Regions from separate parts of the Homo sapiens genome. Here regions 2, 3 and 4 are each linked to region 1. The links come from fine-mapping of genetic effects on gene expression. A gene starts in region 1. Each other region holds a variant in brackets. All regions are shown on one strand. Distances are from middle to middle.

The links. PIP is the estimated chance that this variant, and not a neighbour inherited with it, causes the effect. A credible set is the group of variants that fine-mapping cannot tell apart.
Region 2: its variant is the best candidate, but not a certain one, in a credible set for the expression of UBE2E3 in gastroesophageal junction (GTEx, PIP 0.76).
Region 3: its variant is the best candidate, but not a certain one, in a credible set for the expression of UBE2E3 in whole blood (INTERVAL, PIP 0.55).
Region 4: its variant is the best candidate, but not a certain one, in a credible set for the expression of UBE2E3 in lung (TOPMed, PIP 0.58).

What each region holds. Positions count from the first base shown.
Region 1 is chr2:180,976,783-180,984,333 of GRCh38, forward strand. It overlaps UBE2E3 (ubiquitin conjugating enzyme E2 E3), which reads left to right and starts at 3,823. Exons shown (of 6, transcript NM_006357.4): 1 at 3,823-4,191; 2 at 5,236-5,454; 3 at 7,261-7,311. The coding sequence starts at 5,261. UBE2E3-DT (UBE2E3 divergent transcript) reads right to left here and starts at 4,230. Exons shown (of 2, transcript NR_187176.1): 1 at 3,284-4,230; 2 at 548-2,884. RefSeq lists a silencer at 3,241-4,100.
Region 2 is chr2:181,347,782-181,355,332 of GRCh38, forward strand. The region is part of intron 3 of LINC01934 (long intergenic non-protein coding RNA 1934); the gene reads left to right. Among named protein-coding and RNA genes, the nearest start is that of MIR4437, 46 kb to the left of the region's middle. The variant C/T (reference allele first, on the strand shown) is at 4,386.
Region 3 is chr2:180,438,401-180,445,951 of GRCh38, forward strand. No RefSeq gene overlaps it. Among named protein-coding and RNA genes, the nearest start is that of SCHLAP1, 250 kb to the right of the region's middle. The variant T/G (reference allele first, on the strand shown) is at 4,121.
Region 4 is chr2:180,934,627-180,942,177 of GRCh38, forward strand. It overlaps the pseudogene RPL27AP3. Among named protein-coding and RNA genes, the nearest start is that of UBE2E3, 42 kb to the right of the region's middle. The variant G/A (reference allele first, on the strand shown) is at 3,992.

The DNA of each region.
Region 1 (7,551 bases):
GGATAACTAGCAAGACTACATTTTTGTTATAATGTTAAATATTTCTTTAAAAATTTTTGCCTTTTGACATACTAAGGTGCTCACGGTTTTGTTTCATGTGTACAGGCTCCTTACCATGACATGAGCCTTTTTTGGTATATACCTTCCCTGAGAGTTATCTCAAAAGAGAAATACAGAAAATAATCACTGAGTTATCTGACGTCAAACCAAGGCTTATGCACCTTTCCAACTCCAGGGCCCAGCCCTTGGTGTAGGACACAGCAGGTTTTCCCCTCAGGATGCAGTGGAAGTGCACCCAGATGTCAAGCGGCACATTGGATTCTGGGGGTCCAAAGACACTGGGACTAACAATGACAAACAAGGCTGTGTAAACTAAGGCTGAGCCAAGAAATACCTTCCTAGTAAACCAATCCAGTCTTTATGGGTAGAGAAAGAAAATTTCTTAGCCAGAGAACTGAGGATACAAGTAACTGGAAAGCATCAGAAACAGCCAGTAAAAATGAAGGGACTCTTAGAAAAGTTATTGACTGGAAGGAAACAAAGTACCTTAAAATCAACAAAATAAATTCATATTTATTCTACATTTTTTACATGTGAGGGATGCTGCTGGTCATGGTGGATAAGTAGAGGTCTATACCCCAGCTTACATAATCATTCAATTCAGAAACTTCTTAGGTAACTCAGTGATAGATCCTGTGAAATTCTTAGTTATACATACTCACAGTTATGTACACAGATAACACTGAGACTCATTGAAAGGCGCAGGAAAAAGCATCTCCCAAACTAGGGAGGTGCAAAGGATTCTGGGGTCTGCCTTATTTGCCCTTAGGCAGGCCTCTTTTTGTCACAACATTTGGTGGATAAGGGGATAAGAGATAATCATTGTAATACTGCAATTGGATTCGGCATCTTCCCTCTTACCACTGCCCTTCTCAGGGTTGTGAGAGGCTGGCAGGACCCCACACCAACAAGAGAAAATAAAAGAGACTGAGAGGAAACAATCTTCTTTGTGGTAGCTGGTGTCTGCTTGTGGAACTATTCTGAGGGACCTTATGGGAAAAGGGCCCTTTTTATATTTTATGAAATAATTGCATTAGGTCAAATTTGTATGCTTCCAAGAGTGCCTGTGAAACATGATCCTTAATTTCAAGGATTGACATAGCAAAAACAAGAGAGAAAAAATAATTACAAAACAGGTTGTCACACAAGGAAGAACTAAACATTAGAAACAATTTACACCTTACAAGTTACTTCTGGTGGAGGTGATGCCAAGTCACCTGGGAGAGGAGCTGTGAGCTGAAATCATTTGAGCAACCCCTTGAGTCAGCTGAATGAAGGCAGCCAGGCACCTCACATTGTAGGGGCAGGGCACTACTGCCCCTAACCTTATGGAGCCATTCATTATCTTTACGGTGACTTTAACAATAGGTATTATTTGTTGAACACCCAAATTCCAGGTATTTTGCCAAGAGCATTATCTATATTATCTACATTATCACTGGCCCTAGTGCTCTCTCCAGGACCAATCTAATGTTTCCTTCTTTGACCTTTACCTCATGCCCCACAATTCCAACCTGAATTAATAGTTCCATTATTAGTTAATTGATGATTAGTAATGCTCTTTTCTCATTCTCTTTACTTCTTTAATACAGCACTTCTCATTCTGCAGGCTACGTTTCTGGCTGCCCCACTGCACAATTGAGCTTGGTTAAGAGCATGACCCATGTTTCACTCCAGTTTCCCAAGCAGTTAGTAGATCCTAAATATTCTGTTGGGTGAATGTTAAGTTAAACTCCATGACTTCAAGTTCGCCAAAGAATCACGGAATCATGGAATTTTTGAGCAGGAGAGGACTTAGAACCTTTGATACAATCTCCTTTTACATAAAAGTAATTGAAATAACTTAACTTGCCTGAGGTCATATGAACTTCGTAGAATGAGGATTAGAATACACTTCCCTGGCTTTTCAACCCAATACTATTTCTTCTGTAGAAGATGTTACCAAACAACTAAATATCTTTCTCCCCTAAGCTCCTTACCCCACTAAATCCTATCAGCAATTGGCCTTTGGGCCTTCAGGCTATTTCTGTTCTTAAATTTCCTAAAAGAACCCATGTTTAACGTACAGCTTTCCTTTTCTGTCTCCCCATTCCAAACAAAGCAAAGCTTCAACTCCAAATTGGCTGGCTTTTGCTGTAACATCACATCGTGTAAAGCTGGGGGAAAATTCTGCTTTTATTTTCACTAACAAGCTTTTCCCACAAGCACTCTTTGACCCAGCCAAATCAAAATGCTTGTCCACACACAGACCATGATCTTTTTTGAGGCATGAGATATTCTATCTGTTCATTCTGAGTGGAATATCCTTACTACTTATGAACCTAGCGAACTTTAATGAACTGTTCCCCTTCTGGACTAGGAGCTCTTAGCACAGAGTAGAGACCTGGCTTTAGTCACACAGCAATTGAATGAGTGTATGTCCAGCACCTAGCAACATATAGCCCTCAATAAAGTTAACTGAATGACTGTGTCTTTGGAAAATTATGGAAATGTAACTTACTCTTTAGAGTTGCTATCAAGCCTTTACCAAAAGTTTTCTATTAGGAGAAATAGTAAGCAAATACGTTGGCTCACTCAGTCTTTTCTTCTTTCCCTTAACTCTATACATCTTTTGACTGCCATTCTCACTCCCTTTGTGAACTGCACATTCTCACAGCACCCCTGCCCCTGGACACTTGTGGGAGAGGAATCCACAAATTCCTTTGAGGCTCCATCACCGGAACAAGTTCTCAGTAGCTGGAGAAGGCCTGGGTGGCAAACAGGAAGTTTTTGTATTCTGGCTACTTTGTGCCGTGGGGTAAAAACCGCAGAGTCCACCTGGAGACTGCAAAAAGAATGGTAGAACAAACAAAACTGTCACTATCTCCACCTAAAGCTTTTCTGGGTGGACATTCTGACTCAACATCACTCAGAACTTTTCTTTCCAGAACTGGCTCCTCATGTGCAAGACAGAAGAGTCCCGCAGAAAAGTGTCATGTTTTAGCTCTCATCGCCACCCCCCAACCCCAAACTCTTCTCCTTCACTTTTAAGAATGTTGAGCGGGACATTTTAAACACTGTTTTGGATTTTTAAGGTTTCAAATAATCCGAAGGACACTTCCCTTTGGCAGCGACAGTTGCAAGCTATGAGCCAAAAAGAAATAGAGGTTGTTCCCCTAATCTCCAAATACATTCTACCCTCTTCAATTCCCAGGACCCCAACTTGTCCCTTCCTCCAGCTTACGCGAGGGGCAAGTGGCAGCTCTTCTCCGCCTGCGTGCCTGGCCTCGTCAACAACACCCATTAGTCTCCCGTCTCCCGGGGCGGCGGGGGACTCCCAACCACGCGCCCAGGGCCCTTGCCCAGGTACTGGGGCCCCGGGAGCCACGACGGCCCCCGCGCAGGCGGATGGGATGGAACCAGCCCTGGGGACGCGGGTAGCCCAATGGGCAGCCTCGCCCCGGAGGCGGGCCCAGGCCGGAAGCCACCCCGCGGCACAGCGGCCCCGCGATACGGTGCCCGCGCCCCCGCCTTCTCTGGCACAGGCTCCGCGGCCAAGGGCGGCAGGGGCCAGCCCGCCGGGTCCCCGCCGCGCTCTTTGTCCTGGCCGCGCGCGGGCGGACGCGTGCACCCCCAGGGTGAGGGGAGGTGTGGAGAGCGCGCACGGGAGCGCGCGGGAACAGCTCGCGCCCGCCGGGCGTCGGCGGCGCGCGCCCCTCCGCCAGGCAAGCAGCGAGCACGCGCGTCGCCGCCGCGCCCGCCCCTCCCCCCCGCGCTCGCCTCGGAACTTGCTGACTGCGCGGCCGGGAGGAGCCGAGCCGGGCGGCGGCGGCGGGAGGCTACAGCGCGCGGGGGTCTCCCGCGTCCCCTCCGCCTCGCCGGGAGCTCGCGCCCTCGCCCAGCCGAGCTCCCACCCCCGCTTTTTTCCGAAGGCGCTGGGCGGCGCCACCCTCCGGCCGGAGCCCGGCACTGCACAACCCCCTCCGACTTTCAATGTTCCACACTCCCCGGCCAGAGCCTCCTCGGCTTCTTTTTTTCCCTCCCCCCCCTTCCCCCCCCCACAGCTGCCTCCATTTCCTTAAGGAAGGGTTTTTTTCTCTCTCCCTCCCCCACACCGTAGCGGCGCGCGAGCGGGCCGGGCGGGCGGCCGAGGTAAGGCGGCGGGGCCGGGGGGCCGCGTGGGGGGCGGCCGGGGCGGCGGCGGCGGTGGGGGAGGGGGCGGGGGCGGGCAGCTTTGTTCGCGCCGGGCGCCCGCGTCGCCGGTGTCCGCGAGCCGCGGCGGGGCCGGCTGGGCTGCTCGCATCACTTGGCGCCCGGCGCGGCGAGCGCTACCCGCGGCCCCCGCGCGGCCCTCCCCACAAAGGGCCGCGGAGCTGCGTGGCCGCCGCCGCCGGCCGTGGCTCGCCTCCGCGGGCGCGGAAATTTGTTGCACTTCTTGGGGCTTTGTTTATTTGTTTGTTTTTTCTCTGGGTTTCTTATTTTTTTCGTTATTTTGGACAAAATGTCGGTCCGTGATATAAAAATTGAGCGAGGAACCTTGGTGGCATTGGGAGCTTTGCAGAAGGTGCAGTTTGAATTCTGCTTTTCCCAGGGTGGCAGCTCGGTCTTGGCCGGATGAATCTTCGCTGCTGGCCGTGGAAACAGCTAGAGCAGCTCGTTAGTTGATTTTTAAATTTCCAAGTGTTGTGTTTAAAGGCTTTACGTGCACTGAGGAGGAATCGCCACCTTAAATAAGCATATGGGCGATTAACAGGGTGTGTTTTCCTCTCGGAAAGGGAATTTGGTAGCTTTGACCAATGTCAGTGTGTAAATATTTAGACGTTATTAGTGACTTTTAAACATTTTTCAGCGAGATCTGTTATTTACAGTGTGTCATATGTTATTAATGCTTGTTGCCTAAGTTCCTTGGCAAATCTGTTTCATGCCTTCTGAGAAAGTAGACAATTGATAGATTGTCCAAGAGACGGAAAAAAATGTGAGTGGGTTTTCTAACTTGAGTTCGGCAAATCCCTTAACGCTGGCGTTGTGTGACACATCACCTCCCTTGTACGTACCCCTGTTGTACGATGAAATAAGTGTGAACACTTTTGAAGCTTTTTCATTACAAGACGATTTTAGATGACTAGAAGAAAATGCTGTTGGTTTATTTCCTAGATTTAACATTTTCTCCTCCTCCTCCCCTGTTCTCTTTAAAAGTTTTCCAAGAGATAACTTCACCAAGATGTCCAGTGATAGGCAAAGGTCCGATGATGAGAGCCCCAGCACCAGCAGTGGCAGTTCAGATGCGGACCAGCGAGACCCAGCCGCTCCAGAGCCTGAAGAACAAGAGGAAAGAAAACCTTCTGCCACCCAGCAGAAGAAAAACACCAAACTCTCTAGCAAAACCACTGCTAAGTTATCCACTAGTGCTAAAAGGTAATGTGTAAAAGAAGGATCCAGCACACTTTGTCAGGTTGTCTTCCAGGTGGTTGGACGCTTTTGTTGGTTTTACCTCAATAGCAGTAGTTCAGAAATATTTACTTCATTATCAGTTTAATTGTACTTGAATGAGTTGTCATTCTTTAGGTGGTATGTAAGCAACATTACTAGAATTATACTTTTAAGCAAACTTAATTCTGTACTTCGGTAACTTCAGTTAAGAGTGTCCTTGAGTAGAGATTAGACTAACATTCTGACAGATTGTTTAAGGAGTTGGCAAGGAAAATTTGGTGAACCCAAATTAGATGGTACTTTGGGGATGTTCCTTTTATGAGTCATAATCTTCTTTAATGAAATTGACACTTCCAGAGATTAGCAGTGCCTCTCTTCATGAAACTTAATGATCAGAAATGATCATATTTGCTAGAAAATTTGCAAATTCAGGCCTTTGCTATATTTGAAAGCAGATTTAAAATTGTGCTGCAAATCTGCTTACAGTTTTACAAAACATGACTTTCAATCGTATATCACAGGTAACTTTCCTGGTTAAATTATGATTATCCCTTCCTGTGCTTGTGAGGGCAAATCAAACTGAAAAGTAGCCCTTTACAATTTGAGGTGTCACTAGTGATAGAAAACTTGCATTGTCCTTGGGCCTCTTCACTCTGAAACTTGTGGATGTGCTTGACAAGTTAATACTCAACAGCAGGAGAAACATATTTAATTGGATGTAAGTGAAAGATCATTTGTTTCCTATTGATTGATGTTTTCTGATGGAGAAAAAAAGATTCTGTCAATGAGACTCTTATCAGTGGTAGTAGTAGTGGAATATCCACAAACTCTAGTAATTATACATAAAATGTATAATGTTTACAGCATTAACCAATTTTGACATTTTGTTAATTTTTATTGATAACTAAAGGAAAAAGAATATAAAAACTGATCAAATATTGCATTCTGTGGTGATTCATAAATACTCATATTTTTCTATGGATTTTCACCCTTATTGTCTCAGTAATGAAGTATTAATAACTTGATAATATTTTTGAATGGCAGCAGTCTTTGACATAATTTAAAATTCTCAATTTGGTATAGTGTTGATGCGGAACATATTAGACACATCTAAAGTTTTGAAATCATCTTAAATTTGAATCAAATCAGAGAACTGCTTTTCTCCCCCTTAACTCAGGCCTATGTATTTTCTCCTCTTTCTCTCAATGTTTATTAAATTTAAGTGCTGTACCTAAAATCAGGGAAAACAGAAATGGTTAAATTAGAATGTCAAGTAGTCTTTGAAAGTTTTTCACAAGTAAAGATATTTGTAAATTTTAAACTTTTTTTTTGACAGATAAAATATTGTCAGAACTGTTAATGTGCTCTTGCAGTAGCCTGTTAATTTTTACCTCAGTAAAAGTCACTTCAAGTCCTTGTCAAATATTCCAGTGCTTTCCCTCCTCCCTTTTTGTCTCATTTGCATATAAGCTTGAAAAGAGAATTTCTTTGGTAAAAAGTGTTTTGAAATAGATATTATATTCTTTACTGAGTACTAGTGGATGAGTATTTCTCCAATCAAGTGTAAATGACTTACTTGTTTGCAGCAGCAAGTGAGAAAAAAAGCTGCAAAGTTTCTGTTAAGGGATTTGGGTTATGCCTCTGAGAACAAAGAGGAAGCAGCCATGTTAGCATTACTGAAGGCAGAGCCAGCCTTGCATTTAACTGCATGGTGGTAGAGGGCAGTGTAATTCCCTGGTTATTCTGTAGACTATATCAAATCCTTTTTGTCTCTTCTCATTTCACTAACAGAATTCAGAAGGAGCTAGCTGAAATAACCCTTGATCCTCCTCCTAATTGCAGGTAAGAAATGAATTTTGTTGTTTTGGTTTCAAATTGTGGAAAAATACCAAGAGATTGATGTATTGTCTGGATATGTGTGCAGCAGAGGAGACAACATTTGCTTCTTTACAGCTTTGCAAGTGCATTAAACAAAAATTGTAGAAGGTGAACTAGATAAAATTGGGAGAAAAAATACTTTTTAGCATAAGTATACATTGTGGATTTATGAATATACTGATTTTGTGCTTCTGATATTCATAT
Region 2 (7,551 bases), 370 kb after region 1:
CATGGACCCTAAAACTTAAAGTATTAAAAAAAAAAAAAAAAAACTAAAGTAGAAAGAATACTGGAAAATAAAATTTAAAAAAAAACAGAAAAAGATAATGAAAGAATACTCAGCACTAAAAAGAAATGAGCTATCAAACCACGAAAAGACATGGAAGAGCCTTACACGATTTTCATTAACTGAAAGAAGGAAATCTGAAAAGGCTACATATCTGCCAGTGAGGAATACGTGTATGACTCCAGCAGTCTGACGTTCTGGAAAAAGCAAATCTATGGAGATGATAAAAAAGATCAGTGGTTACCAAAACTTGGGGGTTGGGGAAGGAATAGGATGAGCATAGAGGATTTATCAGACCATGGCAATACTCTGTATGAAGTATAATGATGGATACATGTCATTCTTATACATTTGTCTAAACATGCATCCTGTGTGACTGTGCACATTTAAAATATGGACTTTAGGTGATAATGATGTGTCAGTGTATTTTCATCAATTGTAACAAACATACCACTCTGGTGGGGGATGTTGATAATGGGGGAGGCTATGCATGGGTGGGGACAGGGAGTATGTGACAAATTTCTGTACCTTCCTCTCAGTTTTGCTTTCAACCTAAAACTGCTCTACAAAAAAAAAAAAAAAAAAAAGACTTTTTTTTATACTCAGAGTTTTTTTTTTTCTGAGATTAAGTTGGTTCCAGTGATGTGCATTTACTAACTTCCCCTTTTCTCATTTATTTAGAAATAATATACAACAAGATGTACCTCAAGAATCCATAGAAATGGAGCAAATGAACAAATAATCAAGGGCTACTCCTGTCATTATAATTTTGTGGCTGACCTGGAAGTTATCTTGGTGTAGCTCTGTGACTATTTATATAACCTACTCCTAGCTTCTCTCATTCTCAGGGTCTCTATTCTTAACCACAACTATTTAAACAATATATTTATTGGCAATTCTAGATGACAGATGGACATGTGCTAAGATGATCAGTGTGCACATCTGATTTTTCTAAATAGCCCACAGTAAGTGAATAAGTGAATGTTCAGAAAATATCTGCCATGCTAAATTTAAGGTTCTCGTGCATATTTTATTTAGCATTACAAATTGACTAACAAAATTAAGTAGGGAAAATATATATCAGATCCATGATGTTTTGTGAATAATTGACTAGCCACACAGGTGCATAAGATTTCAGATGAAAATTCCTTCTTTTGTGTGGAATATGTACTATTAAAAGATTATAGGGGGAAATTCCATGGATTCCTTGTCATCCTTTAGAATAACAAGATTTTGTGCATAGTTTATTAAATAGCCACCAGTTTTCTAAATTTTTTGCCATTGTTATAATTTTACCTATATCACACTTATTCTAAGAAAATAAAATTTTATCACTTATTCTGACAATCATTATGCTTAAACAAAACTGCCTCTATTTTCTTCTGTTCTGGGGAACAGGTTGCTGCTTAAGCATAGCACTCTATCCTTGCTTTCCTATAGCACTCTGCACTTTCACCTTGTAGCACTTGACACAATTATAATGGTATAATGACTCCTATAATGATTCATTTTATATTTGTCACCACCACTCAATTATAAACGATATGCAGTCAAGGTTCATGGCAGAAGTTTTTTAACTCATGCTATGGCCTCAGCCCAAAGTAGATAATCAATGAATATTTTTTTTTAAATTAAAGAATGGATAGACAGAAGAGAGTGGGGAATCCTATATCTTCCTCTACTCTTTGCCTTAGCTTTTCTAGGACTGCTGTGAGTAGTTGGGGCTAAAAGGAGGCAGAGGGGACTCAGGCAGCAAGCTCCTCTGCCACCAAAACCTCTGCTCAATCTGTGCTCAGTCCCTCCCACTTTGGCTCTGGGTGTCAAATATCCTGCCATTGTGGACATAAACAGATGAGAATATGATTACTGTGAGACCAGCAAAAGTTTTAGTGCGCTGACAAAAATAATAATAATAATAATAATTGCTTACACACATGGTCAAGGTCACTCTCACACCACACACCAACATTTAGGTAGCACACACTCAGCCCCTTTTGTAGACAGAATTTATTGTGGACAACTATACTACTATGAGTATATCCTTAACCTTTTGAAGTTGACCTCAGGGAGGAGAACCAGGAGGATAATTTACACAATTCTCTTTAGTGTAACTATCAGAAATAGAACATAAGATAGCTGGAATACAATTCTAGCAGTGTTTTATATTTTACTGTTTTATTCTGATTATTTAACATAAATAACTCGCCACATACAGTACAGCTTAAAATAAATCATTAGAACTATATATGTAACATACTAAGTCTAGGTGGGCCCAGTGATGAAGCAGATACAGGGGCTTCAACAGACAAGGTGAAAATAGATTAAAATGAGCATTAACCACTATTTAAGGAAATGTATGTCAAAAATCAGGTTGTAATAATAAAAATAATATTAAATAGTCATGATGACAGTAATCAAATCTGATGATGGAATGTGGACTCAAAAATACCTAAAGATTAAAAAATTCAGGCCAGGCATGGTGGCTCATGCCTGTAATCCCAGTACTTTGGGAGGCTGTGGAGCTCAAGACCAGCCTGGGCAACATGGCGAAACTCCACCTCAACACAAACAACAAAAATTAACCAGTGATGGTGGCATGTGCCTGTCGTCCCAGCTACTCAGGAGGCTGAGGTGGGCGAATCGCTTGAGGCTGGAAGGCGGAGGTTGCAGTGAGCCGTGAGCCGAGATGGAGCCACTGCACTCAAGTCTGGGCAACAGAGCAGGACCCTGTCCAAATAAATAAATTAATTAAATAAATAAATAAATAAATAAATAAATAAAAATCAAGCAAGAAAATTCCTAATGGGATGGAAATGCTAAATGTTAAATAATAAAGAAAATTGCATATTATGACTTGGTGATTCAAATATTATAATGAAATAATTTATAAGAGATAGTAGAAGAATAAGAAAGTATGTGTTGCTAGTTAAAGTCAATCAGTCAAAAAATATTTTGGTCTTTTTCATCTATACCAACCCTGCAATAACCTTTTAAATGACTTTCCCATTTCTGATTTCTTTGCTAGTCCATCAGGCTCCTTTCTTGACTCTGTGTTTAAGTCATTTTCTCCGTTTCACATGTTCATAAATTTTAAGGCCCAGTTGAATGCTAACTATTTTCCATGAGGTCTTCTCTGATCACTAGCTATTAGTAATGTCTCCCTCCACCAAACTGCCATAGAACTTTTTCAGCACCTCTCTTATTTATGACTCTTTGAACTTTCTACTTTGTAGTTTAGTGACTAATGTACATTTTTTTAAGTTCCTTATTTGTTCATAAACTTTGGAGAGTGCAATTTCTCTTTGACGGCATACACCACACAGTTTATTATACTATTCAGTACACAGCAGGTGCTCAACTGGTAAATGTAGACAGTACACAATTTTCAAGAAAAGTTCTTATACATGAGATTCCAGAGAGCCTCCACACTTCTCTTTTCTCCCCAAGTTTCCTTCCCTGCTTTTCTAAACTTGGCTCTGAGTCCCCATTCAAGACTTAGCTCCTTAGTGGAGCTTCCCCTGACCCCCACATTCAAAGTTGTCTCTTCCCTGACAAAAACTCATCTATTCAACATCTAAAAGGTTTGAGTCTTCATGTGCTACCTTGTGGTAGGTCACCATTTTTATGTTTATCAACTATTACCTGCCTCCCATTCAAGATTGTAAACTTTTTGAGAGCAGAGATCACATTTTATACATTTTGGTACTTACTGTCATTTAGTACTATTTATATATTTAGTAGTTATTGTCAGTCTCAGAACAGTGCTCCACGTCTATTGATTCTATTTTGTTCCCGAGATATCCTAAATATCTAGAACACTATCTGGCACACAGTAGGTGGTCAGTAAGTATTTGTTGAATGAGGTTGATAGATGATTAGTAAAACTTCTCAAAATTTTGAGTGAAAAGTTGACTCTTTGGCAGAAACTTCCAGGAGTTGATTTTAGAGCTAAGAAAAAATAGAAAGCAATGTCCACTCTTGGTAGAGCTAGGCAAAAACAGGCAGATGAAGTAGACACAGGTGTCTTCTCCACAATCCCCATTTCACTTTATCTTAGGCATGTCTCCTTCAGGAGCCACAGCCAGATCAGAGAGGCCTCCACTTGGAAATGATCCATCTCAGTGGTGTGGATGGATTAGACCATTTCTCCCACAACTAAGTGGTTTTTCTCTGGCCATTCTGAGGTATATGCCATGTGTCTCCTTCAGAAATATCCTTTTTCATGTGATGATTTCCAAAATATATTTTAGTCACTTCACTTTGTGTTTAAGTGAATAACTATGTCTCCATTCACTTATCATTAATAAACATATAATAATTCACCTAAT[C/T]ATGGAGGTGTTGGTTAAGCCAGCATATTTTGAGTTCATGTAGCCAAATACAGTGGTATTTAGTCACATGAAAGTTTAGCTTAGAACACAAATATGTGCTTTTTTTTTTCTGTTGGAGCTCTTATCTTGCAACATCCTTCCTTCTTTTCTTCTTTCCTTCCCTCCTACCCTCTTTCCTCCCCGCTTCTCACCCTCCCTCCACTAGTATCTACTGAAGCCCTTCTATGCAAAGCACAATACTACTTGCTGAAGATATAATGAGGAACAAGTCAGAAGTGTCTCTTCCTGTTCTACTAGAATTTACACTCTTAGAAGAGATGCAGACATTCAATTACTATTTTTTACTATTTTAATTCCAACTATTACAAAAGTTGGACAGATAAAGAGGGACAGATAACTATGGGAGCTTAAAGGAATCTATCCTGGTTTGGTGGGAAAGGGATGATAGATTTCAGTAGTCTGGAAAGGGTCACCTGAAAAAATGGTGTTAAGACTGAGTCATGAAGAGCTAGTAGGAAGGGAGGGTGGGAGGAAGGAGAGAGAGAGTGGGGAGTATTCCAGGTAGAAGAAAGCAAATGTGTGGCCTTGAGTGGTCACTTCTCTTTGGCTTATCGTATATATCTATGAGCTAATGAGAATGAAAATTCCTTTTTTTTCAAATTGTTAGGTTAGCTTAAAGAGATATTGACTCATTAAATACAAAACACAAGAAGACATTAATATAAAATTGTATACATTTTTTAAAGCCTATATTTTCTCCCTTGAATTAAAAATAAAGTGCAGCATGTTGAAATGTTGAACCCTGGCCATATGACAAAATTGGAAGTCTCTCTTTGCTTACACCTTGGGGCAGAGGCAGGCATCAGACAAAGTCCTTTTTATTTTGTATCCTTAAGAGTATTTCAAGGTCAAGTTAAATGAAAAACTAGTCATTGGCTCTGTTAGATTTTCAAATATATCCTCAATAAAATGTACACTATTAATCATTTTCATATTGGTGATTTTAATCAACTTTTAAACCATTACTTTTTAGAAAAGTTTTTCACAATTTCTGGTTTCTAGGGTAATTGAAATTTCAGTATATAATTATAGTAGTATAAATATGATACTTAAAAGTATTATTAAAGGTCATTAAAATATTTTAAAAAAACTGGTAGGGCAAGAAGACTTTACTACAAGTTAATGAAATGGGGGTAATTTAGTTGAAAAGAAACAAAATGATTACAAATTAAAGATTACTATTCTGTGGCACTCTTTCTTTAGTTGACAGTGAATAAGGTAGAGTTACTATATTTTTATTCATATTATGATTTGGCCCCTTTCTAGAAAAGTGAAAATTTTATGTAACTCTGATACATGGAATATATTTTGAAATTAAGAAGTATATGTACATATATTAGTCATTATTATTACTGCAACTATTCCTAGTGAAAAATATACCTCATTCAAAGAGAAAGATAAATTTCAACAACTGTTATATATGCACACTTTTTGCCCATAAAACTAAGCAAGCCTAATAAATTAAAATTTATCTAAGTCACAACCATCCAATTAGGGACACTTTCTTGCAATCAGATTACAAAGGATATTTTTATCTCTTTCAATTTAGCAGTCAGGTTAGGGCTCCCTAATAGAAGGCTGCGTAGCTCATTAGTCCTACCACTTTGGATGGCCTTTACTCTTAACTTCATTCTCCGTAACTCAAGGGGAGTCAGTGTGTAACTGTGGGTGCAGAGCAGCAATGAGGATGCTTGAGTCTTCATTCTGAAGGGATCACCTGTGGAAAGAATGATCAGCTTTCAGAAAATCTCATCTGGTTAAGTCATATTTCTCTGCTTTAAAATGTTACAGGATTTCTCATTGCCCTTAGCACAGTTTCTCAAACTTTATTGAACATCAGAATTACTTGAAGGGTTTTCGAACTCATGAATTATTCGGCCTTGCCCCAGAGTTTCTAATTCAGTAGGTCTTGGGTGGGGAACATACTTTGAGAATTCTGACCTATAGGATAAACACTAGAGTTCTTATTATGTCTTACAAGGCCCATCATGATCTGAAGGCAGCGGTGGTTGCTGGTGGAGGATGTGAGCTTTGGAACTGGAGCTCTTTGATTCAAAGCTCTGCCGCTTACTCACTGGATAAGACCATGATCAAGTTATTTCATCTGAAAAATTGAGGTAATAATAATATCTCCCTCTTAGGGTGGTTATGAATATTTTATGAGATAGTACTTTTTAAAATAGGTAGATTCCAGAAGAATATCAGCTATTAGGATTATGATTACCTCTCCGGTTTCTTCTCTTGGTTGGATGTCCTAGTGCCAACCATACCAGACTACTTCAGACCATAGTAACATCACGGTTTTCCATCCTTGAAGCTTCAAATGTTCAGTTTTCTCAATATAGTTTCTACCCTTTTCCTACATCTTTCCCACCTTCATCTAGCTAACTCCTACTGAGACTGGAGAGCTCAGCTTTTACGTCACCATTCCAGGAAAGCCAACCTAGCCATGGTTGTATGTACTTTGCCATTAAAACACTGATGTCCACGTACATGTTTGTATCTGTCTTCTCTACTGGACTACAAACTCAGGAGGGTAAGAATGATCTGTTCACTGGTACAGTCTCCATGCCAAATAGTTGCTTAATAGGTATCTGCTGAGTACATGAATGAATCATCATTCATGCTGTCTGTGGGATTCTGGTCTGGGCTCACAAAAAAAAAAAAAATGAAAGTTTAGTATAGAACACTGGAGTGGAGAGATCTCTGCCCCTTCACTGGAAAAATATGCCAAGACTGGAACTGAATGACAATAGATACCTAGCACCTTTTGCGAAGTTATGAATATCAGAGGCATATGACATACAATATGTCTAGTCACATTATGTTAATACAGGGATTTTAATTTCTTTTATATTTAGATATGTCATTCTACTACTTAAATCTTTAAAAATACTAAAGCTAAGAAGAGCTCTGGGAAGGAAACACAACATAATAGTTTCTTTAGCAGCTTGGTATGGCTATTTTGTCTAATCAGCAGCACAGTGGTTACAAGTATAGATTCAAGGACACAATACTGCTTGTATAACTTACTTGCTGATGACTTTGGCTAAGGTTCTTAGTTTTCTGAGACCAGATTATTTTCCTGGTAAAATGGGCAGAATAG
Region 3 (7,551 bases), 540 kb before region 1:
GGTACATCTCACCACCCTTGATGTCCTAGACCTTGTTCTGCTTCACCTGGGATTCTTGAATCTCTTGTATTTTAGTAATTATTTATAGTAAAACTGTCATTAAGACCTCTGAGTCATGTGAATCTGATCTGATAATCCGATGCTGTATGTTAGCTCATTTCTTCAACTTATTTTAAAGAGGTTCATCTTAGTTTACCCTACATTAACAGCAATGAACTCTTTCCAGGAATTTTGTGCCTACTTCCAAAATATGGCATACTGATATGTTTTTGACTTTGACTTCAACTTTTCATGATCAGGATTATATTTCTATTTTGGGAAAGATATTCCATAGATGAAATTCCACAGTGAACTGATTACAAATGTTTCAAACACATAATTGATTTTTTATATCCATGGATGCTATTTGGACAATGAATGAACTGCCTTTAGTTTCTTACTTTACTCATTCTTTTTGTTTCTGTCATCTTCTTACATCTCTAGAATCATTTTAATTTTAATGTTTTTCATTTTCCCTCTCTGATATTTAAATTTTATTTGATATTCCTGATATTAAATCCTGTACACAAAGTTTTATTTTTATATTTTTTTCTTCCATGTTTAGACTAGTCCAGAGCTTGCTTCCTGTTCTTGTTTGGGGAATCTACTTTTTCTGGTTGATGTCCAATGACTACCTCACTTTATTCTTACCTCATTAGTCTTTATCTCTTTTCTTGCCATTTTAAAATGCTAATAATTTGGCTTTCTTTACTTAGGCTCTCCTCCAGAATCATCAGTGAGCTAACTTAATACAATTGGCATTAATATTCCTAATATCGACCACAATGCTAAGTGTTTGAAGAATTGGCATTCATTTTTGGCTAGATCTAATTATAAACACAGGCCCACTAGATATGAAATAAAATCAAAAAACATTCACAAGGCACTGTTCTGGAAACTGGAGAGTAGAAAGATTATATTATAATGGCTGTGGTAGGAATTGAAAAGGGAAGGAAGATACTAATCATTTTAAAAGGCAAAGAGAGAAACAAAAGAAATAGACACTGGTAGGAGAGGAGGGGAAAAGATTCCTTTTTGATTGGAAAAAAATGGGGAATTTTTCATGGAGGAAGCGTCACTTGAGCACTGAGGAATAGTACATGGGTAGAGTCCAGGGACAGGAGAGAATAAGAGGAAAGGGAAGGGAAAACATGCAGAAAACTAGCAGAAGAATACTAGAGAAAAATGCTGGATATTTAAGGCTCTTTAAGGGTCCTTAGGTTACTTCACAAAGAGTTGTCATAGATTGTCACATGTATTGGTTCTTTTCAATCAGAAAAATAAAGTTTGATCATTCTGCAAATATGATGAGGATTTTAATGTAAAGCAAAATTTTGCTGGGTATTTGAACAATCGTTGAGTCAAAGATTCCACCTTTGAGGGGTGAGGGTAGTTGTGTTAGTAAAAATGTGTAAATGCCCCTTGTAAATACAGTCAGCTCTCTGCCCTGCCCCTTTTCTGCTCCTTAACTGGCAGCTAACAGTTAATTTCTACTTACCTAGAATTGACTCGGGTGAAGAATGTATTCAATAGTATTTTCCTCCAAGGACCATCTTTAACATGATAATAGGTCAAAAGTTTATAGATTCTTGAACATTTTATTCTTATTATTCAATATCAAACTAGGACATAATCAAAAGCTTCATTAATAAGACATCATCTACAGGCCAGTGTTAAGTGCTAAACTTCAGAAATATGTCTCTGCTAAAATGAGCAAAACAAGCCAACAGATAGTAAAGGTCACAGACAAATTTAGCACCATGATTTTTTATAAATCATGTTTTATAAAATGCAAGTACAGATATTTTAGTATTATGGTTTTTACCACTAAAAACCACACCATTTAATCTGGACCTTTGGGAAATCCTGTGTACTACAGAATATGACCACTTGTCCCCAGCACTGCTGCCATCGTCCTGGACAAGTCCCCATCATCTCTCACCTTTATCATTGCAATAGCTCTGAACTTGCCTCCCTGGTTCTAATTTTGCCTCTTTTTACTACTCATAACATCAACTGGAGTGATTCTGCTGAAGCCTGAATAAGATCCTGCCATGTCATCTATGCATGAAACCCTTCTAAATCTTCTCTGCTCCCTTAGAGTAAAGCCAATGTGGCCTAAAGGTATATATGACCTTCCCCTCCTCCCCATTGCTTTTCAGAACCTATTCATTACACTTTACCCTCCTTCACTCCTCAATGGCCACACTGGCTACCTTGCTATTTCTTACATGTGCCAGGTTGAATCCTGCCTCAGGGACTTTGCAATTGTTGCCTCCACCCTTGAGGGCTCTTCCCCAGGAGGAAGCCCAAATCAACTCAAGTTGTCTTCTCAGTGAGATCTTTTCTCAACACAGAATTTAAACATCACCATTTACATATCTCCATACCTACTCTTCATATCACTCCTCTGCTTTTATTTTTATTTTTAGAACTTTTTGCTATTTAATGTACTAGTTTTATTATTGTTAAATGTATTATTTCACTTTCTGTCTCCCTGAGTAGAATGAAGACTCTATGAAGACAGGGGTTTATATGTGTTTTGGTTGCTGCTGTATCTCTCCAGTGCCTAGAACAGTTCCTGGCACATTATAGATGCTAATTAATCTCTTGGATGAATGAATAAATTAATTTTATTCATTATAGAATCCCTGTTGGCATACATTTTGTATGCTAAATTATGGATAAAACATTTTAATTTTTTATTCATCCTACAGCATGGAGAATTATTTACAATTCAAACTTTTTTTTAAACTCCATGTAGTGCAAGGTTTTCAATACACTTTGGTGTAAAAATGTTTCAGATATGGAAAATATTTCTTAAAATTCAAAATCTTTTAAGGAAATTAAAAGACAGTAGAATTTTTCCTCTTTGCCTTCTGACTTGGGTGTTGATGTTCTAGCAATTAGAAACTTCATTAGTGGCCATATGGCCAAATGATCTCATTATGGACCTTTGAATTAATTTGCATTTTTATTATGCTTCTGCTTCTAAATTGTATGTACTGTGTTTGATCATTTGTGTACTTTTCAGAGAATTGGAGAATTCTTATTTTATTGAAGAATATATATTTTTAGATGGAACATAAGTAGTATGTGCATTCCAAATTTAAAAATTTTTTAATCACTAGATTATTAACAAAAACAAAAATAAAACCAAGTTATTTGTTTCATTGGATATGCCTCCTAACAATTTCCATGCACTTTTATGAGAAAACCTCTAATATGATAACATTATTTGTTTAGTACGTCAGTTTGGTAAAATTAAAAGAAAAGAAAACTATAAGTTGTTTGTGTCTTTAGGGTAAATTAGTAAGAGTAACATGGACTCCTTAATTCCAGGAAAGTCTCTGAACACTTCTCCCCAATTTCTCTATCACCTCCATACACACACACACAAATTACATATAAGGCCAGGAGGTACCCTCCAACTTGAAAAAAATAGAACAAGACCATCTGTGGTATGGGAGAGAACGGCCCTTCCTGTCCTTTAGTTTCTAGATCTGGCCAGTGACGAGGAAGTAGAGTATTAGAAAAGGTTTAATCATCTCATGGTTTGTGGGCTGTACAGGCTTTTGCTTCTGGGGAGGCCTCAGGAAACTTAAAATCATGGTGGAAGGTGAAGGGAAAGCAGGTACATCTTCACATGGCTAGCAGGAAAGAGAGAGAGAGGGAAGGGGGAGGTGTTACACACTTTCAAACAACCAGATCTGGTTGGAAATCTATTATGAAAACAACAAAGGGGACATCCCTTCTAAAGGGGGAACTCCAAAGGATTCAATCACCTCCCACCAGGCCTCTTTTCCAACACTGAAGATTACAATTTGACATGGGATTTGGGTGGGGACACAGAGTCAAACCATATCAGAGGACTTGGAGATTCCCAGAAGGAAAACAATCAGCCAGGGTAGGAAATTAATAAAATACTCCCCTCCCCTAGTGAATTTTACTATCCAGGAAGGAAAAGGATTGGGTTTTCCATGGGCAGACACAGAGATAGACTTTGAAATACAAAATTAGGGCTCAATTCTTGTGAGACAAAGAAAAGAGGAAGCAGGATTGGCCAGAGGAAGAATTTGAG[T/G]GTCATGTATGCCTGACGATGCTTGGGCCAACCTGTCATGGAGCTTCAAGGTATTATTGGTCAGAGTGACCCATGCCAGAGTGAAGTGTCTGGGCCTTTCTAGCCAGGGCTTACTCAGTCACAGAATGTGTCTCAGTCACAGAATGTCCTAAAAAGGCCATGATCTTGGGTGAGGCTTCCTCTCACACCTTCTCTTGGATCACTCAGTTTGAGGAAGCCAATTGCCATGTTGTGAGGTAGCCCACTGGAGAGGCTCACATTGTGAAGAACCTGAGGGACCACATCAGTAAGCTTGGAAGTAGCCCCTCTACACCAACACACACAATAGACCTTTCAGATACACTTGCAGCCCCCAGGTGATAGCTGAACTACAATCCTGGACAGGACTTGAGTGAGAGGCACCAGCGAAGCCATGTGCTAATTCATGATGCACATAAATTTGAGATAAAATTCTTGTTTTATAAGCTGCTAAATTCTGGGGATAGCTTGTAAGCAGCAGTAGATGACTAATCAGTTGAGGCAACCCCAAGGCAGCAAGTCCTTACTTGAAGGAGGATTTGGGTGGCACATCTCTATATCTGTCATAGTCTACCTGTTTTGTCATTTGTATACACATATATTTGAGTAACAGCTCCTCCAGGATTCTGGTGGGCCACTTTTCCTTAGGGGAAATAGAAAAGAAGGAAATTAGCAGAACTAACTACAGTTGCTCTGCTATGGTTGATCTCAGGACCAATATTGCTATTTACTTTATTTCTCCTATACTAGTCATTTTAGGTCCTGCACCATCAGGCACTATGTCTGCTGTCCTTGGTCATGTGTCTGGTAGCATTACTCAGACTGTCCTCCCCAAGAAGTCTGATCTATGGTTACCATGTCCTCCTCATGCCTGCACTGCTGGATCTGTCCATTTACACTTACAGTTGGGCAAGGGATTACTGTGAGGCACTCAACCAAATCATCTGAGTGTCACATGTATTTCTCACTGTCTCCACTGTATAGCAGCAGTCCTAACCCTTAATGATTTAACTCAGTTACTCCTGCTGATATGGTGACTCCTTTTTTCCCCCAAATCTCCAGACAACAGTCATACTAATAATTCTACAGAGCTTTTATTTTGTCCTCTGGTGAAATTGTGACCTTTTTATAGATCAGGGCCTTTAACTCTACAAAGCACCGTTGCAGGGACAGGAAGCACCAAGTTCAAGGATCTTTATTTACTGTAGTACAGGAGCCATTTCTGCTTCTACTTTTTGGTTCTGGAGCCCTTGCATTCTTATCAGACACACAAAGCTGCACAAAATCCTTTGATTCAGTGTGAATACTGCATATCCAGAGAATGGCACCCCAACCTCATAGAGCACTGCCTCTGATTTGGGCTTTAGCTACTCATTTAGCAAGCCATTCCAAGGCTCTATTAGACTAGCAGCATCTGGAGAGAGCTTGTGATACAGCCAGTGAATGTCATGGTATGGGCCCACAGTGGCACTTCCTATGTGGTAAATGGTCTTCTGGTCTGAGGAAGTGTTGTGTTAGATTACATATTAGTGGATCAGAAATTTCATAATCCCTCAGCTAGAATGATGACTAAGGCTTTTGGGCAGAAAAAGCAAATTCATGTCTGGAATACATGTTAAATCTAGTCCTGTGAGCATAAAAGAATGGCACTTCCATAATGGAGGTGGCTTGTACGACTGGTTGGACTCCTTGAAGAATGGTGTTGCATCAAGGGCTCCACACTGATATCTGGTGTTGGTAGGGTAGAAATTCAGCAGCTAAATTGGACTTCAAAGGTGGGAGTCCATGCATTGGCACATGCATAATCTCCTTTTCTGCCACTGTGGTCTCTTAATTCATTTTTTCTCTTAGTCAACACTGGGGAGGTTGAATACAGAGGTTGGCTGACACCAACTGCTTGAGTTATTTTGTGTACTTAGTTGATTAGAGTCTTCTGTGATTGATATTCCTTTGTAAGCATTGACATATGACATGTATATTCCCATTTCATGCCCATTCCCATATGCCCATTTCATAGACATCCCATATATATCCATCTAATAGACATCCCATATATCTAACACAGCCTCCTCATCCCCAAACTTTGTTTTCCTTCCATAATCCTGAAAAGTCAGATAGGCCTTTTACCATTGCCCAAGAGTCTGAATACATTATAACTTCACTAATTTTATCCAAAATTAATGAACAGGTACACTATACCTAATATGTTTTTTAGAAGTATTTTCCTTCTTCAATGGGTCATACAAGATCCCCCATACAGCTATAAAAATCAGCTGAGGGAAGGGTTCAGTGGCTGATTCCAACCCTGTTTTTGCATAGTCACTTTCATACTATGATGGGTTGCTCCTGGGTCTACACTAACTTATAAATTGGTGGGTCTCACAGGAGTTAACTAATGATGGACAGTTCTGGCCACATGTTCACTTGGTGAACTATAGTCAGGCATTTCATTTTTACCACAGCTCACTAGCCTGCCTGGAATTATTTTTCAAAAGATGTATAATTGTGCACTGCAGATGGCAAGACTTTGCCCTAAAATTTCAGGGGATCTACTTTGTGGTTCTTCCACTTGGACTTACCATATGACAACTTTTCACACCACTGATACTGCCTGCACCACAGAGCGAGCCAGATCATATGGTCCAAGTGCGAGGGCTGCCTGCACAGCAGTTTGGACCTGTTGTGGAGCTCTTTACTTCTCTGTACACCATTTAAGGCTGACAGTCTTTTATATCATTCTGAATATAGATGTGGAATGCACCAATTTCAGAGATGGAAAAAGCCTACCAGTGTGGTTCTTCTTTATCCACGGTGGATGTACAAGCTATGATAATTTGTATGTTACTTTGGAGAGGATGTCTTGCTACACCTCTAACCATTGAACCCCTAAACATTTTATGGTTGTGGTAGTCCCTAAAATTTATTTCCTTCCCTTTAGAGCACGCATGACTTATTGAGGCCTCACGTATACCAGCCACCGCTTGCTCATCTGGCCCAACCAATAAAAAGTTACCAGTGAAATGGGTCAGTTGGTATTCTACATGATATCTAAATTCTCCTACACACATGACACAGGGCCAGAGAACTAGGATAGTACCATTTTTGGTTATGCATTTCTATGACACTTGGGATATTGTATTGCATTAACTACCTCCATAACTCTTTTCAGCTCAGGTTCTCTTGGGTGCAACCCTGACCTGCCTAATTGTTATAATGATTACAATCCTTTGGTTTCGGAAGTTAAATGCTGCTACCTACTTTTATGTTTTTTGGGGTCCTGTTACCCCTGTTGCTGTCAATAAGCCAATTTATGTAACAAGCTTTCCTATTGTCAACGTTGACTTGAAAAGGAAAGCCACCATTAAACTTTCTGGTACACCTCTTATCACTGCATTCCTGTGTCCTTGGCAAAT
Region 4 (7,551 bases), 42 kb before region 1:
AGTTTTCTGACACTGCCAGCATCTGCCAGTCCCATAACAGATTGTAGATGTCTTTCTTGAATTAAAGGGGAAGAGGGTGCCGAATTGAGCAAAGTAACTTTTCCATGTATCTAGTACATTCCAGGGATTGCGCCAACGTTATCTGACTATCTCAGAATGAAGGGATTTACACTTTCCATAATATTCTTATTAACCATGTGGTCAACTAAATACTCCAGATTGTTTCACATGAACTGCTGTCTGATTGCTTTTTCCTCCCATTTTGTACTTACATATTTGCATTTCCACGTCTAGACTGCAGACTTTTATTCCTGCCAAATTTCATCTTGTTGTTTTGGTCTGATATTTTTGCCTGGAAGTATAAAGTTGGGCAATAAAATTTTGAATCTTGAGTCAACCATTGCCAAGCTCTTAGAATCTAATAATTATGTCTTCTATTTCCACTGATGAAAGTGTTGATCAGTAGGGATTGAGGAAAGGAACTCTCCAGTCTTCCCTGTTTGCCTGCATTCCAGATTGAAACAGAGATATGAGTGATACCCTTATCTTGCATATTTGTCCTTAGATAATCTTTATAAAGCCTTTTAATACTACAGTCTTATGTAAACTCACAGCCACCTATAAGATGGACTTGCAGGCATTATTATCTTTGTTTTACAGATAGGGATACTTGCAAGGTCATACAGCTACCAAACAGCACAGCTAAGACTAGAACATAATCCAATTCTTCCTCCTCTATACTATTGCATCTACCAGCAGGACTCATGCTTACCTTGAGGAAAAAAAGTAGGCTCTATCTTACCACCACGAACTACCATTGAAATCCAGACAGCATTAGGAGGAAAGGAAGGTTCTCAATATCCTTTAACCTGACATGCACTATGTCCCTGATAAACAAAGCAAGCCAACATTTAAAAGTAATCTCTGGGCTATGATTCTGCTTACATAACCAGCATATCCATAAGGTTATTATGAGAGGTAATTCTTTTTTCTGAAAACATTATACACCAATCTTAACATTCCACTCCCACCAATCTAATAACTGGTAAAATATGGTAACATATTTTTGAATGTTTTATCCTAAAAAGACATGTAAAAATGTATATTCTTCTCTAAATATGAGTCCTTTACATAATAATTTGTTCTACCATTTCATGATAGATAGGTTCATATTTTTCTGGAAGAAGGACATTATTAGGTGCCAAGCTTTCAGAAACCTATACAAGACTCTATGATGGTTTGGAATATTGCTAAACAGGAGATAGTAGCTAATTGATGAAAGTTTCTTTGCCATCCTGACAGGAATCTTTATCTGCATATAGAGACTCAAATTCATTTTTAGTTATTTTCTGATTACCTCCTTACATATATTGGTCTATGATTGCTTCTCTAACTTGATTTGTCTTATTATTTGGAAATTTTGCCCTTTTGTAGCAAATATGAAATCAAAACAGGTTTTGGATATTGTTACTTCTAGAGACCTGAGATCATTTGTCTCCAATGTAGAGTCTAAGGCATTCTTTTTACTCTTCTTCCTGCTCCCAACATAGCTTAAGAAGTCACTTAGGCTGCATTTAGTAACTTTTTTTCAAACTCTCAAATGTATTCTGAGTTTTAATCTTTCTGACATTATTTCTAGATGTTTGTGTTTCTCTTTTCAATTAGAGATTATTTTTGAGTTTCTTCTTTCTTTTTTTGCGTCTCTTAAAGTGAAAGAGATGAATCAGAAAACTCTTTATACAGCGATACTGATTTTTTTTTACTAATGCTTCCTCATTTTCTTTTTTCTTTGAGTTATTTCTTTTTAAATTTCATCTTTTATAGATCTCCAACCCTCAAAATTTGTTCAAAAAAAGAAGGAAATCTCTTACCCATTACATACCATATTCCATTTTTAGAGTCTCTAAGTTAGAGGTGTATCTGTGTTTTTACTGAAATTTTAGAATTTCGGTTCTTTCCTAATTTATTACATTTTTTATACCCTTTGAGTTACTGGCAAGAACAAATTAGCCAAGAATATGGCCAAGAATACCTTCATACTACAGAGAAAATGTAGTGATAAATGGGTTTGACCAGATGTTTTCCTCTTTGGTTTAAGCAAAAAAACTGTGGAAATACTCTTCCCAATCCATACACATTTTGTATAGATAATGCCTTGGCAGCACCAAATGGGATGGAAAAGGTCTTTGTAAAAATAAAATGTTATTCAGTGAAGTTTGATTACTATTATTTCTGGCATGCCAATATCTTAGAATTATTATTTCATGTGGTGGAAAATTTGAAGATATGTATAAAAATTATTAAATTCCAAATACATGCAGACTTGATATCTTTAGGAGCTGGCATTTTCTGTGCATTAAGGCCTAGCATATTGGTCTTATCAGAAAGCTGAATCCTAATATGAAGAAATAAGCCCCTATCATTGTGGGTTAGTTACCTCAGAAGCTTACCAGTTACTATGATGCTAACCAGAGACTAGGTTGCCAACATAAAGGCTGCTTCTACCAGAGTCACTCTACCCAGTGGTAGACAAGGAACTAGAACCTTGACAAGGAGAAATTCATTTTATTATGGTGAGATCCTTTGTGTACTCAGTATGGTAATTCCAGACAAGCTTGTTAGAAGATTCCGATCTATTTATTTCATCATGCAATACCTTCACTAGAAAATATTAATAAAAGCAACATATTAGGGCCTCATAAGACCTGTTCCTATTTCTCTCATTCCAGAATCAATAACATGCATGACTGTGTGTTCCTAACTCATCCTGGAATGATAGCGACAACCACATGAACCAACTTTTTTCCTCTTTAGAATTTATGAAGCACCTTACATGTGCTGTCTAATTCAATCCTCAGAACAGTGCTACCAGGCAGATGATATGGTTTGGTTGTGTCCCCACCCAAATCTCATCTTGAATTGTAATCCTCATAATCCCCACATGTCAAAGGAGGGAGATGGTGGGAGGTGGTTAGGTCATGGGGGTGGTTTCCCCCATGCTGTTCTCGTGATAGTGAGTGAGTTCTCACTAGATCTGATGGTTTCATGAGGGCTCTTTCCCTTTCACTTTCTACATGAGCTGTCTCGTCTGCTGCCATGCAAGACGTTCCTGCTTCCCCTTCTACTATAATTGTAAGTTTCCTGAGGCCTCCCCAGCCTTGCAGAACTGTGAGTCAATTAAACCTCCTTTCTTTATAAATTACCCAGTCTTGGGTAGTATCTTTATAGCAGTGTAAAAACAGACTAATACAGTAGGTGTAACTATTTCAATTTTACAGATGAGAAAAATCTTTGAAGGTCAATTACTTGCTTCAAGTGAAAGGCTAGGTAGTGACATCAGTGAACCAGAACATCAGTGAAGGCAGATCTCCTTCAATTTTAAACACATCATGTATTCTTTTTGTTATGTTGCAACTATGAGAAAATCTGTGGCTTCTTTAAAAATTCCATCAGAGGATTCAAAGAAGAGATAGAGGCAGAGGTTAATGGTAGCTTAGGTCTGGAATAAGTGGTATTAGATGAGAGTAAACCTAAATAGCAAGGTCCTCAACTGGAAAAAATTTAAAGAACTATTGTACAGGAGGATCCCATGATAAGAACCCTCCAATGACAAGAAATGTCAGTGGCTCCAGCTCTAGAAATCGCCTTTACTCTCAATTGGGATGAACTCTAAGAAGAAATTAAAAGACTAATTAGGAACTTTGGCTGCTGAGACATAGTTCCTTGGGCATAAATGGAGAAAGACATCAGATGATGAGAAAAGCAAAGAAAAAAATTCAGTAGTTTACAGTCATTATATTAGACAAGAAAGACAAAAGCTTTCCAATGTCATATCTTTATTTCTTTAGTGAACTACATTTCTGTTTGCCAAATATTCTTGTTTCCCTCCCTGCAATGTTCATCACTGCAGAACCCTTCCTGTGGGAAGATTATACATTCCCTGCCTATTGCACTTGAAAGTGATTGTGAAACTTGGTTTGACCAATGAAGT[G/A]AGAACAGAAGTGAGTGTGTGTGTTATGAGTGCAAGCTTTAAGAGCCAGCTCATGCTTTGCCATGTGTCTTTTCTCTTCTTCAAGAACAGCAACATCCTGAGCAGCAACAGCTCCAATCTATCTATTAAGGCTTGGCAGATTAGTCTTATCAGAAAGCTGAATCTTTTCTTTTTCAATTGTTAGCATTTAATGGACATCCCTCCATGTGGCTTCAAGCCACCAAGACCCCAACCCCACACCCCCACCCCACCTCTTTCACCCTTAATCGTCTCCTTGGCTCTTCTGCTGAAGAATTTGGCCTTCACAATAATAGCTGCTTTGGGAGCTTTCCCTTTCCCAGAACTTTTTAATTGCCAGGTCATACCACATCAACAATGGGAGCAGCTCCAGTCTTGTTTTTAGCAACTTTTACCCATGTCTGCTCCCTGACCAAAGTCCACAATTTGTCAAGATTGACAGCAGGGCAGAAGCTCTGGTTTCTCTTTAAGTGGTAATGCCTCATGCCAACTTTCCCAAAGTAACCTGGGTGATATTTGTCAAAGTTGATCCTGTGTGATGCATGCCACCAGCCTTACCACGGCCTCCTGGGTGCTTCCAGTGCTTTACTTTTTTACAGTGCAGCTGTGGCCGTGGCTCACATAGCCCAAAAGTTTCTGGGTCTTCCTCAGTCTGGATGGCATGTCAGCAGGCCAGACAAAAATAAGAAAGCTGAATCTTAATGATACAGTGTGCCTGAGTCAATCCTGGGACCCCTCTCCATTACATTCTCTACAATTATATCCTAGGTAATCTCATTCAGTTCCATGACTTCAAATACTAACCACAAATGAACAACTTGTGAACCTCATAAAGGTGATCTTCAGCATCAGCTGCTCCTCTGAATTCCAGGCTCATGTATTCAACCTCTCCTCTTACATGTCAAATAACGACCTCAAACTTAACATGAGAAAACCTACCATGTGAATTTCTGTCAAGTCTTCTATTATCTTCATATTTTCTTTATCAGTATAGAAATTTCCTTTCTCTCAATGTTTACACAAAAACCTTGAGATCATCCATGCCTCATCTCTTTTCTCACGAGCCATATCCCATAGGCAAACTGTGTGAACTCTACCTTCCAGTCATACCCAGAGTCTGACTGTCTCCACCTTTATCACTAGAGTCTCAACCATCTCAGTCTCTCATCTGGATTATTGCAATAGGCTCCTACTGAAACCCTTCCACCTGGTTTTTAGGCACTGTATACTCCACACATGGGAGCCAATGGGATCATTTGAAAATAGAAGTTAAATCATCTCACTCATCTGAACTCAAAAGATAAACTCCATATTCATTATCCTACCCTTCTCTTAACCTCTTGTTCTCCTTCACGATTTCTTTTTCTTCTAGGATCTTATCTTTCATCCTGTCCTTCATCACTACCCTCCACATTGGCCTCCTTTCTGATCCTCAAATAAGAGAGGCATGCTGCCACCCCAGGCATTGCATTTGCTTTTCTTCCTGGAAAAGGTTATTCCCAAGCTATCTGCACACTTTAATTCAAGTGTCTACTGAAATATCATCTTACCAGAAGTCCTTCCTTGAGCACATTATACAAAATAGCATTTAATCTTCCGGGGAGAATTCCCTGGCTGAGTGTGGAAGCATGCTGCATGTGATTTGGGCTGGTCACTGCCAAGACAGGGTGAGTCTGAGCTGGCATGGAACCACCCCTCATAGCTTCAGCTGAAATCAGGAGTGGGCCACATGGATGTGAAACACACCCTAGAAGCATTGATTAGCGTTGACATGGAGATATGATGACAAGTTTTTGCCCAGTTAAATGAAAATTTGTTTATAGATGAAAGCAATTAACTGATGAGGCTACTAAATGAGACTTGGAGAAAATTGATTACTGACTGAGGCAATTATTATAAACTAATTGACTAATGAGGACTAATTCTAGCAATTTTACTAAGGTATAATGAGGTCATTTCCCTAACTTCCTCATAAATTTTATTATTTTGTAAGCCATTGCCACCCATACTGTTTTTGTTGTTTTATTTTGTATTTTTTGAATTTAGATTTATGTGTTTAAATTTTAAAAAGATAAATGCTTTATATAAAAAAGCTATAGGAAGCTATAAAGAAATGAAAACTTCACCATATTTCTTATCCTGCTGACAGAAGTTAAAAAAAAATATTGTACTTTGGTGTGTAAACTTTCAGATTTTAAAATTTTTCTGTTTGAATGAACATTTACTTATACATAATATTTAAAATAAACTATATCAACTGTTCACTAACTCATTTTTCGCAAATGCAATATACATTAGATCCTCTTCCATCACTACAATAGATTCCTCATTATTTTTAACAGCTGTATAGTATTCAATTACACAAAAATTCTTTAACTGATTCCTCTAATAAACATTTAAATAATTTATAATTCTTTATTATTAAGAATGATGCTTAAACACCAAAACGATAAAAAGCAAAGTGTGGTGTTCCACATACGTACTACACAGATTCTGGTTTTGAAATGTTACTCTCCACTAAATGGAGCCAGGGCTCCTCAGAAAAATGGCTGATTCCACAGCTGGGACAATGAGAATGAGCCTGAACCATCTTGTATCAGAAACTAGGAAAGTGTCCTAAAAATGATCAAGCTATGTCAAAGGGACATGTAAGCTAACTTAAAGCAGTCTCATTTGCTATATCTGATATAATTTGAGCACCAAAAAATTATATCTTAATAAATATTGTATTTGTTAATATTATGTTAATAAATCCTCATAGAATATTTTTTCTTGAATTAAATTAAAATCCATTATTCCATACTAACACAAAGAAAAAAATAGATTAAAAATGAGAATCTTTCTTATAGAAAGTAAACAAATAAATGTAGAAGAAATGGTGGAATTAGAAAATCTGTATTTGGCAATCATCATACTAATAATTGATCTAGGTATACATCATTATAGGATACTAAAATGATTAGGTGAAAGTTTGAGGGGTACCCAAATATTTGTATCTTTCAACATATACCCATAAATACTTATAAATTAAAAAGAGAAAAATGGCGTGTTTACACTAGAAAAACCTATTGAGCAATTCTTCAACCAAGTGATCACAGGAAACACCACCGGTAAAAGCACAAAACAGTAGCATGTGCCCCCTGGTATCATGGACCAAAGAAAACACTACATGACTTCTGGAGTATTCCTGCCAAAATGCCTGATATGAGCCTAATCATGAGAAAACATCAGATTAACCCAAAGGTAGAGAAAAGCTACAAAATAACTGCTCTGGACTTTTTAAAAAATGGCAACATCATGACACACAAAGAAAGACAGAGCTCTTCCAGATTAAATGAAACTAAAGAGACAAGACAATGAATACAGTCTGTAGCCTTCTTTGCTATAAAGGACATTACTGGGACAATTGAAGAACTCTGAATACGTTCTCTAGAAAAATATCATATCAATATTAATTTCTTAATTTTGATAAATGTATTAAGAATATGTAACAATATCCTAGAGTTTTAGGAAATACACAGTGAAGTATTTAGGGGTAAAGA